Linked DNA regions of Homo sapiens. The protein of the gene in region 2 purifies or fractionates together with the protein of the main gene of each other region. This does not show direct contact. Each region holds a gene or a part of one and is shown on either strand. Other genes may lie near its edges. The genes, in order: HAVCR2, GSKIP and A2ML1.

Evidence for each region.
Region 1: the proteins of GSKIP (region 2) and HAVCR2 purify together in Homo sapiens (affinity purification with mass spectrometry; one large-scale study listed by BioGRID and IntAct). This does not show direct contact.
Region 3: the proteins of GSKIP (region 2) and A2ML1 purify together in Homo sapiens (affinity purification with mass spectrometry; one large-scale study listed by BioGRID and IntAct). This does not show direct contact.

The regions. Positions count from the first base shown.
Region 1 is NC_000005.10:157,099,011-157,102,665, reverse strand, and holds part of HAVCR2 (hepatitis A virus cellular receptor 2 precursor), read left to right. Parts: intron 1-3,655. UniProt on the Homo sapiens protein: Cell surface receptor implicated in modulating innate and adaptive immune responses. Generally accepted to have an inhibiting function.
Region 2 is NC_000014.9:96,384,025-96,387,679, forward strand, and holds the end of GSKIP (GSK3B-interacting protein), read left to right. Parts: intron 1-599; exon of another isoform or gene 600-788; intron 789-1,498; coding exon 1,499-1,660; 3' UTR 1,661-3,264; downstream 3,265-3,655. UniProt on the Homo sapiens protein: A-kinase anchoring protein for GSK3B and PKA that regulates or facilitates their kinase activity towards their targets.
Region 3 is NC_000012.12:8,850,120-8,853,774, forward strand, and holds part of A2ML1 (alpha-2-macroglobulin-like protein 1 isoform 1 precursor), read left to right. Parts: intron 1-40; coding exon 41-155; intron 156-1,664; coding exon 1,665-1,893; intron 1,894-2,090; coding exon 2,091-2,217; intron 2,218-3,655. UniProt on the Homo sapiens protein: Is able to inhibit all four classes of proteinases by a unique 'trapping' mechanism. This protein has a peptide stretch, called the 'bait region' which contains specific cleavage sites for different proteinases.

The DNA.
Region 1 (3,655 bases), on a different chromosome or scaffold from region 2:
ACCACGCCCAGCCTTCCCTTTAGTTTTTGTTTGTTAGTTCCTTCCCTCTAGGGCAACAAAAATGGGAATATAGGAATAATACCTCGAACCTCTGAGCTTCTCAAGGGCCTGACTGAGAAAAAATATTGAAACAACCAAAAATAGGTCAGTAGCTCCTAAATAGGAAAATAAAATAAAAAATTGAAATGAATGAATATTTAATGGTTTGTCTATAATATGTAACATTATGTAAATTGGCTGCTGGCAAACCAACTCTAAATGTGGGATGTGGGAGCATTTAATATAAAAATGGGGCTGGGCACAGTGGCTCACATGTGTAATCCCAGCACTATGGGAGGCCAAGGCAGGCAGATCACTGGAGCTCAGGAGTTCAAGACCAGCCTGGGCAACATGGCAAAACCCCATCTCTACTAAGAATACAAAAAATTAGGCTGAGTGCAGTGGCTCACACCTGTAATCCCAGCACTTTGGGAGGCCAAGGCAGATGGATCACCTGAGGTCAGGAGTTTAAGCCAGCCTGGCCAAGATGGTGAAACCCCTGTCTCTACTAAAAATACAAAAATTAGCTGGTCATGGTGGTGCATGCCTATAATTCCAGCTACTCAGGAGGCTGAGGCAGGAGAATTGTCTGAGCCTGGGAGGAGTGAACCGAGATCTCACCACTGTCCTGAAGCCTGGAAAACAGAGCGAGATTCCATCCCAAAAAAAAAAAAAAAAAAAAAAATAGCCGGGCATGGTGGCATGTGCCTGTAGTCCCAGCTACTTGGCAGGGCTGAGGCAGGAAGATTGCTTGAACTCAGGAGGTTGAGGATTCACTGAGCCGAGTTGGTGCCACTGTACTCCAAACCTGGGCAACAGAGCGAGACCCTTTCTCAGAAAAAAAAAAAAAAAAAATGGAGTAGAGCCTTTAAAAGTAAGAGATCCAAGGGCCTGGAATTTGAACACAGAACAAATGCAACTTGTCTTCTACCTGAAGGAGTAAGGACTGGGTCACAGGTGAGTCCTCAGCTCTAGAGTAGATCTGCTTTAAATCCTAGCTTTCCCAATTAATAGCTGTGTGATCTTGGGCAAAGTGGCTCTCTCAGACTCAGTATCTTCATCTGAAAAATGGGGAAAATAGTAGTACCTACTTATTGTGGTTGAGGATTAAATGAGATTGTATGTATATGGTGCTAAGCACCATGTCTGGCACCTAATAAGTACCAAATAGATGGTAACTACTAAATTTATACACTGTTAAGGCCATCACATCTCACCTCCGCTGCTACCTGCCCCACCAGGCAAATCTTGGTTTCTCCAGAAAGAACATTGCCACTCCCTTCAACTGTCCCATCCATCTTGGTTGGTGGCCAAATCTGTGTGAAAAAAAGCTGTAATGACACAACAGTGCTTGATTTTACTGATCATTTTCATAGCAAAATGAAGTTTTTAAAAAGTTAGTTTTACCATTTTTATCAAGAAAAATAATTATAAGGAGTCTGAAACTGGATTTACATTTAAAATCTTATGTGCACTTAAGATTCATGTTTACTTAGCAGTTGTACTGATGAGGGTCTTTTTTTTATTTTTTTGATATGGAGTCTTGCTCTGTCACCAGGCTGGAGTGCAATGGTGTGATCTCGGCTCACTGCAACCTCCACCTCCTGGGTTCAAGCGATTCCACTGCCTCAGCCTCCTGAGTAGCTGGGACTACAGGCGTACACCACCACGCCCGGCTAATTTTTTGTATTTTAGTAGAGATGGGGTTTCACCATATTGGCCAGGATGGTCTCGATCTCCTGACCTCGTGATCTGCCTGCCCTCGGCCTCCCAAAGTGCTGGGATTACAGGTGTGAGCCACTGCACCAGGCCTGTGGTTTTTATATTTTAAATTTTTTTCTGGTAATTAGGGCAAAAGTAATTGGAACATAATCTTTTTTTCTTCAATAATTTTAGGCTGAGGCTATGCCTTTATAATATTTAAACTATAGTTTGCTAAACCAGCATTTAGTCAAACCCTTTATACACATTAAGGCTTCCAGAAGGTGACAGTGACATTTAAGAAGTTTCAACATCTCTGACTCAGCCATAAAAATGAGTAAGCATGCTTAGTTTTCCAAAAGCTGGCAATGTACTTATTTTTAGAATTCAGTGTTCATGAGGTCAGGGCCTGTGCCCCTCTTGTTTCCTGCTCTGTCCCCTGTGCCTAGAGTAAGGGCATAGTGCATATTCATGGAATGGATCAGCAGATGAAGAAATAAACAAATGAACAGGAAGGAAAGATGGTGAGTGGGTGGCTGGGCAACGTGACCCTCTTCATAATGACAGCACTGAGGTAAGGGCTGGTGAAGGCAGTATAATTAAGAATGTGCATTTAAGGCTATGCAGACCTAAATTGGAAGGCCATTTTGTCATTTGCTAAGTCATGTGACCTTGGGTTAGTCACTTCACTTCCCTAATTTTCAGTTTCTTCATCTGTGCAATGGGACTAACAGTCTCTACTTTAGAAGCGTAGTTCTAAAGTAAGTGCTTCTAAGTATCTCTAAAATGAGCTTCTTCACTGAAAGAGTTTATTTAGCACAAGGCCTGGCTCCTATTACATTGTGACCACAGTGATTATTTTCATTTGTTGGCAACCCTGTCTCCCTTCTCATGAGTAAATGCAAAACTTATTTAAGAAAATGGAGGCTGGGCACGGCACGGTGGCTCACGCCTGTAATCCCAGCACTTTGGGAGGCCGAGGCGGGTGGATCACTTGAGGTCAGGAGTTCGAGACTAGCCTGGCCAACATGGCGAAACCCCGTCTCTACTAAAAATACAAAAATTAGCTGTGTGTGGTGGTGTGCCCCTGTAGTCCCAGCTACCAGGGAGGCTGAGGCAGGAGAATCGCTTGAACTCAGGAGATGGAGGTTGCAGTGAGCAGAGATCATGCTACTGCACTCCAGCCTGGGTGATAGAGTGAGATTCTGTCTCGCAAAAAGAAAAAAAAGAAAAAGAACATGGAGGTTGCAGTGAGTTGAGATTGTGCCACTGCACTCCAGCCTGGGCAACAGAGTGAGACTGTCTCAAAAAAACAAAAAAGAAGGAAATGAATTTTTGTTGTCTTTTAAAATCTAATTAGAATATAATGCCTGAGGCCAAGCCTGGTCGTTCACACCTGTAATCCCAGCATTTTGGGAGGCTGAGGTGGGCAGATCACCTGAGGTCAGGAGTTCACAACCAGCCTGGTCAACATGGCCTCGTCTCTACTAAAAATACAAAAATTAGCTGGGCGTGGTGGTGCATGCATGTAGTCCCAGCTACTTGGGAGGATGAGGGATGAGAATTGCTTGAACCAGGGAGGCCGAGGTTGCGGTGAGCTGAGATTATGCCACTGCACTCCAGCCTGGGTGACAGAGTGAAATTCTGTGTCTAAATAAATAAATAAATAAATAATGCCTGAGTCTTATCAATATTGCTAGATGTTTGTAGAACTCATTAGGGTCCTGTGAAAAAAACAAAGCACATATTTAATGTAGGACTTCCTGGCAGAAGTCTCTATTTCATAAAACAGTACGGTTCATTATCTAGATGAAAAAATGTGGCCATCCTAAAGTTGATTCCTGGGTGTTCAGTAAATTTTGTCTGTCTCTCCATTAATTATTGTGACAAGTACGGAGTAGAATTCATTTCAAAT
Region 2 (3,655 bases):
TCTGCTTCTTAATCTATAACTTGGAGATTTAAAAAAAACTTAAAACGATTTGGGGAATGATTATATGACTGTATGATACAGAAAGATCTGAACCATATGTAAAACCTGACATGTAGTAGGTGCTCAAATATTTGTTTGTTTTTCAGTCTGATTCAGTTAACATTTATTGAGCAACTATCCTGTGTCAGCAATTGAAAATCAAACCATGCATAAGACATGATCCCTGTCCACCAGGAAGATCACAGTCTAGCAGAGATAAGAGGAAGAAGGCAAACTGAACTGTACTCCACTGTAGAGAGTGCAGTAATAGAGCATGGATCTGAAGAGGTGTGATTCATTTTCCTTAGGTGTCTGCCTCTGCTTTTCATTTAAAAAAAAAAAAACTCAGCTTCTATTTCTAACACAAACTTTCACCTCCTATGGCTTAAATAGATGTCATAAAAATTTAGGATTTATATAGGGAATGTACACACTTAAGTCAGCAAAAACTAAATTAATTTTGCCCTATATTGTGCTGGTGAACCATGATATACCTTATAATCTTGTCAAAAAGAAAAGTTGTAGCTGTGTTCACAGGAAAAAAAAAAAAAGAAAAACACATGGCCTGTCAGCCTTTTGCCTAAGATCAATTGGAGTATCTTTTCTTATCAGTTTAATATCTGTTATGTCCTCTATCTAAGGACAATATATTAAATGGATTTTTGGAGCAGGGAGATAGAATAGGCTCTTGCTCCATTAACTTCACACATCGACCTGGTATTGCAAATACCTCCAGAAATAGTGTACCCCTACCAAGAAAAAAAAAACACATTAACATGTTCTTTTATCTCACAGAATTGAGCATTTATTCCCTGTCAGGTAAGAAATATATTAGGTGAAAGTGGCCTTTCAGATTACTAATAATAAAGCTAAACAGTTATTAAAACTAATAAACTATTAAACCAATTATTAATAAACAATTATTAAAATTAACAACTAATTATTAAAACTAAATTATTAGGAATAATTTTTAGAATTGTTTATAAAAGAAGTGAAAAATAATGAAAAAAATATGAACTAATGATATATTACCTATTATAGTACTTAATATAGTGGACCCTCAATATATGTGGAATTAAATGGGGTAAATAATAGATGCATGTTTTAGAATATGAAAATGAAATACCATTTTTGTGTAGCTTTTCAAATTCTTTCTCTGCATTTCCTTGAGCTTCTAAGTAAAACCTTTTAAATGTTGAAAATTCTATAGGGAGCATTTTAGTGGTGTTTCTGTGTTATACATTATAAGTTGCTGAAGTATTAAAGGTTGTATTTAAAATGTGTATACTCTGACTTTGAGAAATAGTTTCACTCAGTTACCCATGTATCTGGTGGTCTAGTGGCTAGGAAAAGAAATAATTTATTTTTTTGAAAGGATGATTACTCACATAAACACTTGGATTTTGCTTTCTGTACCAACATGAAAACTAATGAATTCACTGTTGCATTTCTCTTGTAGGTGGTAGGCTATGCTTTTGACCAGGTAGATGATCATTTACAGACTCCCTACCATGAAACAGTCTACTCCTTGTTGGATACACTCAGCCCCGCCTACCGAGAAGCATTTGGAAACGCACTGCTTCAAAGACTGGAAGCTTTGAAAAGAGATGGACAGTCATGACTACACTTTTTCCTTTCAGAGGGGCTGGTGCTGGTACAGAATGTTGATATAAAGCTTAAAATTCTTGCATATGGTCATAGAAAATGCATCTTTGGTTTTGTGTTTTTATCACTTGCTTCCAACTTAGGCTTTTGGCTCAGAAGATTATTGAATAATGATTTGTCTTAGTTTCTGTTTCAGTAAGGGAATTCTGAGGCCGTTGCTATGATACCATCATTAAGACATTCACATGTCTTCATATAATATCTCTTCATTTCAAATCCTAATCACTATTTCATACTATTACAGGGCTTTGATGCTGCCAGCACTGTCTTTTACATAGGAAATTCTAGATTTGCACAGTAATAGAGGAATTAGAAGTACCTAACTATACACTTTGATTCAGCCTGCTAAATCAGGGGTTCAATACTAGCTTGGACAAACTTTGTAGTAATTAATTGCTACCAGCCTTATTGGAAACAAATTATCAACTAGTTTCCCCTGCACAAATTTTGAAATTCACTGCTTCACTTAATCTATTTATATTACTAATAATGGATTAATAAAGATGAATTAATTATATATTACTTAACTAGTATTAAATGAAAAACAGGGACTGAAATAGTTCTGTATTCCGTGTTTGCAACAGCCAGCCAACTAAGCAGAGGATAAACCGTTAGCAAATGAATGTAATAATTACTCATTTCCAAGATATCTAAGCACATAAGCAAATACAGGAACAGACTTCATTCTTTTTCTTAACAAAAAAGCATCTTCAGTGTGTGATTTAAAAGAAAGAAGATTCTGGTTTCCTAGAAAACAATATTTTGGCCTGTGTTGATTCTTATTCTGAATGTGTGTTTACATAATGTACAGTATATATTCAGAAAGTATTTTTGCTTCAACGTTTACTTTCTATGATGTAGTGCTTTGGTATTCCTACAGCACCCCACCTTCCCCAACAGATGTACAGTGTTCTGTCTCCATTCGAAATCTACAATGTAATATGAGTGCATTGTATGGGTTTGAAACCAAAGGATGAATGAAGCATTCAGAGACTTAATATTTGAAAAAGGAATAGTCAGTATTTTATATTTTATTACAGGTACTGATATTTATAAATTTAATAAACTGTACCATGCTGCTGCATGTTTTCAAGTACATGTTGAACAGTAAGGATTGGGGAGTTGTTTTTTAATGGTCACCTAAAGCAGCTGCTATAGAAATGTTGAACTAAAATTTTGCATCTGGTCATACCTTCATGCATTTATCATTTGCAGATATTTTTCCATCATTATTAAAAAACAGGAACTTTTAGGCTCTGAAGATCATGTGGACCAGAGCAAATTAAAGTTCAGTTTGTGTCACAATTCATTGCCAGACTTCATTGGAATGCTTTGTTTGATGATGTATGTTCATTCTCAGCTTTATTTTCAGATGCTTAACTGGGCAACGAAGTCTAACTTCAGGTTGAACTTTCTCATGTTTAATCTCAGGCTAAATGTAAATGATATTTGTAAAGTTTGAATAAAATTCTGTTTACTCATTTTGAGTTAGTATGAAAAAAAGTGATTGTATGTTTAAGAATTGAAATTGTTCATTTTGTGATAAATGATTAATTCCAAGAGCTTGTTTCCATTTTTTAATTCTGCATTGTTACATTTGGATTTGAAATGACTGAAGTGAGCTTTCTCTTGTTACTACTATGAAAGAGCAATGAGGAACAAGAGGAGAGGACATTAATAAAACTACACAGATATACATGAGAATCTAGATATTAAAACCTCCATTTTACCTGGTCTGTTTAAAGAACTTAACCAGCAGATAGGCCAGGTGTCGTGGCTCACACTTGCAATTCCAGTGGTTTGGGAGGCCCAGGCAGGAGGATCACTTGAGGCCAGGAGTGCAAGACAGCCTGCGCAACATAGATCCCATTTCTACAAAAAATTATAAAAGCATGGCCTGGTGACACATGCCTGCAGTCCTAGCTATTAGGAAAGCTGAAGCATGAAGATT
Region 3 (3,655 bases), on a different chromosome or scaffold from region 2:
CTCCTGTTTCCTAAAGTTTTCGTATTCTCAATTTCATCAGCAGGCGGTGGTCATCCAGAGGCTTTTGAGTCATCAACTCCTTTACATCAAGCAGAGGATTCTCAGGTCCGCCAGTACTTCCCAGAGACCTGGCTCTGGGATCTGTTTCCTATTGGGTAAGTGATGACTCAAAAGTACAGTAAAGGGCCAGGTGCATGGCTCACGCCTGTAATCCCAACACTTTGGGAGGCTTAGGAGGGAGGATCACTTGAGACCAGGAGTTCAAGACCAGCCTGGGCAACATAATGAGCTTCTGTCTCTACAAAAGAAATTAAAAAAATAGCCAGATGGTAGTTGTGTCCTACTTGGAAGGCTGAGGTGGAAGGATCACTTGAGTCTGGGAGGTGGAGGCTGCAGTGAAGCAAGATCACATTGCTTCACTCCTGCTTGGGTGACAGAGCAAAACCCTTCTCAAAATCAACAACGACAACGACAACAACAAACCCAGAAAAAAAACAGTAAGATTCTGCAATGTAGAGCCTGTAGAAAACTCAGAATCAGACGCATTCCTAATGGATCTAAATCTTAAGCAAAGAAAGCTTGATGGGGTGTGGGAATTTATTTATTTTCCGGAATTCTTTTTTTCTTTTTATTTTTAAGACAGAGTCTTGCTCTGTCACCCAGGCTGGAGTGCAGTGGCATGATTTTGGCTCACTGTAGGCCTCAACCTCCTAGGTTCAAGCAATTCTTGTGCCTCAGCCTCCCAAGTAGCTGGGACTATAGGCACATGCCACCACACCTGGCTAAGTTTTGTATTTTTAGTAGAGGCAGGGTTTTGCTATGTTGGCCAGGCTAGTCTTGAACTCCTGGCCTCAAGTGATCCACCCGCCTTGGCCTCCCAAAGTGTTGGGATTACAGGTGTGAGCCACTGCGCCCGGCCTACCTGAATTCTTCATGCATTCATATACAACCACTCAAAACAAATCCACACAATTCCACACTCACACATTGCAGGCCCTGTGTTCTCACTACAGAACCACACACATTTAAAGGTATATATTGACATCAATTTTTGCTCACTGCTTGCATATCCATTTTGACAAGCCCTGAGACCACACATCCTCAGACTCAGAGGGCACCAGCCTCTCTGTCAGATGTGCTTGCACAGAGATGCCCACCCCGACTCCCCACCATAGTCCCCCTCCTCCGTATGAGTGCAGCCTCACTCACACTGAGACTCACCTGTTCAGTTGCCTCTTTACTTCTCCCCATACAATAACAATAACAATTTTACTTCTGCAGATGAATTTGTAGCTTTTTTTTTTTGGACAGGGTCTTGCCCTGTCACCCAGGCTGGAGTGCAGTGGTGCAATCATAGCTCACTGCAGCCTCAAACTCCTGGGCTCAAGCAATCCTCCTGCCTCAGCCTCCTAAGTAGCTGGGACTATAGGCATGCACCACCACACCTGGCTAATTTTTAAATTTTTGGTAGAAATAGGGTCTTGCTATGTTTCCCAGGCTGGCCTCAAACTGCTGGGCTGAAGCTATCTGCTCACCTCAGCCTCTCAAAGAGCTGGGATTACAAGTGTAAGCCAGCACACCCCACCGAATTTGTGGCTTAATTCACAAATGTTCTCCTTGCCCCACGCTACCTCTGCCTCATGTTGGTCCTTGTGTTTTCACAGTAACTCGGGGAAGGAGGCGGTCCACGTCACAGTTCCTGACGCCATCACCGAGTGGAAGGCGATGAGTTTCTGCACTTCCCAGTCAAGAGGCTTCGGGCTTTCACCCACTGTTGGACTAACTGCTTTCAAGCCGTTCTTTGTTGACCTGACTCTCCCTTACTCAGTAGTCCGTGGGGAATCCTTTCGTCTTACTGCCACCATCTTCAATTACCTAAAGGATTGCATCAGGGTGAGAGCTGGGGATACAGGAATCAGGTGTCAGCCCTGGAATCACACCTCCCCCATAAGTTTGTCTCTAAATTGGAAGCATCCCAATTTTCCCTGGGAAAGAGAGGAGATGTCGGCGTCTCAGCCCCCAGGTTTCCCCAGGCCTCTATGCACTACCTCCTTTGTTTGTACCCTTTGTCTCTTAAACATCCTCCGTAGGTTCAGACTGACCTGGCTAAATCGCATGAGTACCAGCTAGAATCATGGGCAGATTCTCAGACCTCCAGTTGTCTCTGTGCTGATGACGCAAAAACCCACCACTGGAACATCACAGCTGTCAAATTGGGTAAGAGAGGGAAGTGGTAGACGGGCGAGGAAAGCCAGCAGCAGAAGACCAGTGACTGAGCACTCAGTCTTTTCCTCTGCCACATCTGCTTTGCTTCCTCCTCCATTTTCCACTATTTTTCTCCCTCCTAAGGCTGTTATAAGTCAATACACAAACACTCTTTGATAGGTGACCAAACAAATTTGTTCAAACCGGAATATTTTGAGTGTGAAAGGGAGAGCTTTTAATATTTATAGCTGGACAAGGAATACATGGTCATGTAACTAATCAAGGACTTACTATAAGAGTCCCTGGGCCAGGCACTATTCTAACTGCTTTACATATATTAACTCATTAAATTGATTGACTAATTAATTTTTATTTTATTTATTTATTTTTGAGAGGAAGTCTCGCTCTGTTGCGCAGGCTGGAGTGCAGTGGTGCAATCTGTGCTTACTGCAACCTCCACCTCCTGGGTTCAAGTGATTCTCCTGCCAAGCCTCCCAAGTAGCTAGGATTACAGTCGCGTGCCACCCTACCCGGCTAATTTTTGTACTTTTAGTAGAGGTGGGGTTTTGCCATGTTGGCCAGGCTGGTCTCAAACTCCTGACCTCAGGTGACCTGCCTGCCTCGGCCTCCCAAAGTGCTGGGATTACAGGCGTGAGCCGCTGCGCCTGGCCTTTTATTTTTTTTTAGAGAGACAAGATCTTACTCTGTCACCTAAGCTGGAGTACAGTGGTGTGGTCATTGCTCACTGCAGCCTCAACCTCCCAGGCTCAAGCGATCCTCTCACCTAGGCCTCCGGAGTAGCTGGGACTATAGGCTCATGCCACCACCATGCCTGGCTAATTCAGTTGGCAGAGAAGCGGTCTTGCTCTGTTGCCCAGGCTGTTCTCAAACTCCTGGGTTCAAGTGATTCTCCCGCCTCACCCTTCCAAAGTACTGGGATTACAAGAATGAGTCACTGCACCTTTAACTTGTTTAATCCTCACCCCCAACCCTATGGGATGTCAGTCACTCATAGATTAAATCCTTGCAACTCAAAGTTTGATTTTCATATGTATGAGTTATCTCATGTTGCTTGACAAATTATTGTAAAACTTAAGTGTCATAAAAGGACAAACATTATCAAACAGATTCTATGGGTCATTAATCTGGGTGCAGCTTAGCTGGGTACCTCTGGCTCAAGGTATCTCATGAGGTTGCAATCAAGCTGTCAGTCAGGACTCTGGTTTCATCTGAAGACTCGACTAGGAGAGGATTGATTTTTCAAGCTCATCCCAAAGTCTCTGATCCTTACAGGCTGCTAGACTGAAGGACACAGTTCTTGACCTCAGCTTTTGGCTAGGGGCCTCACTCAGTATCTCATCACATGAATCTCTCTGCTGGGCTGCCTCATCACACAACAGCTGTCTTCCCCAGAGCAAGCAGTTTGAGAAAAGGGGTGCACCCAAGATGG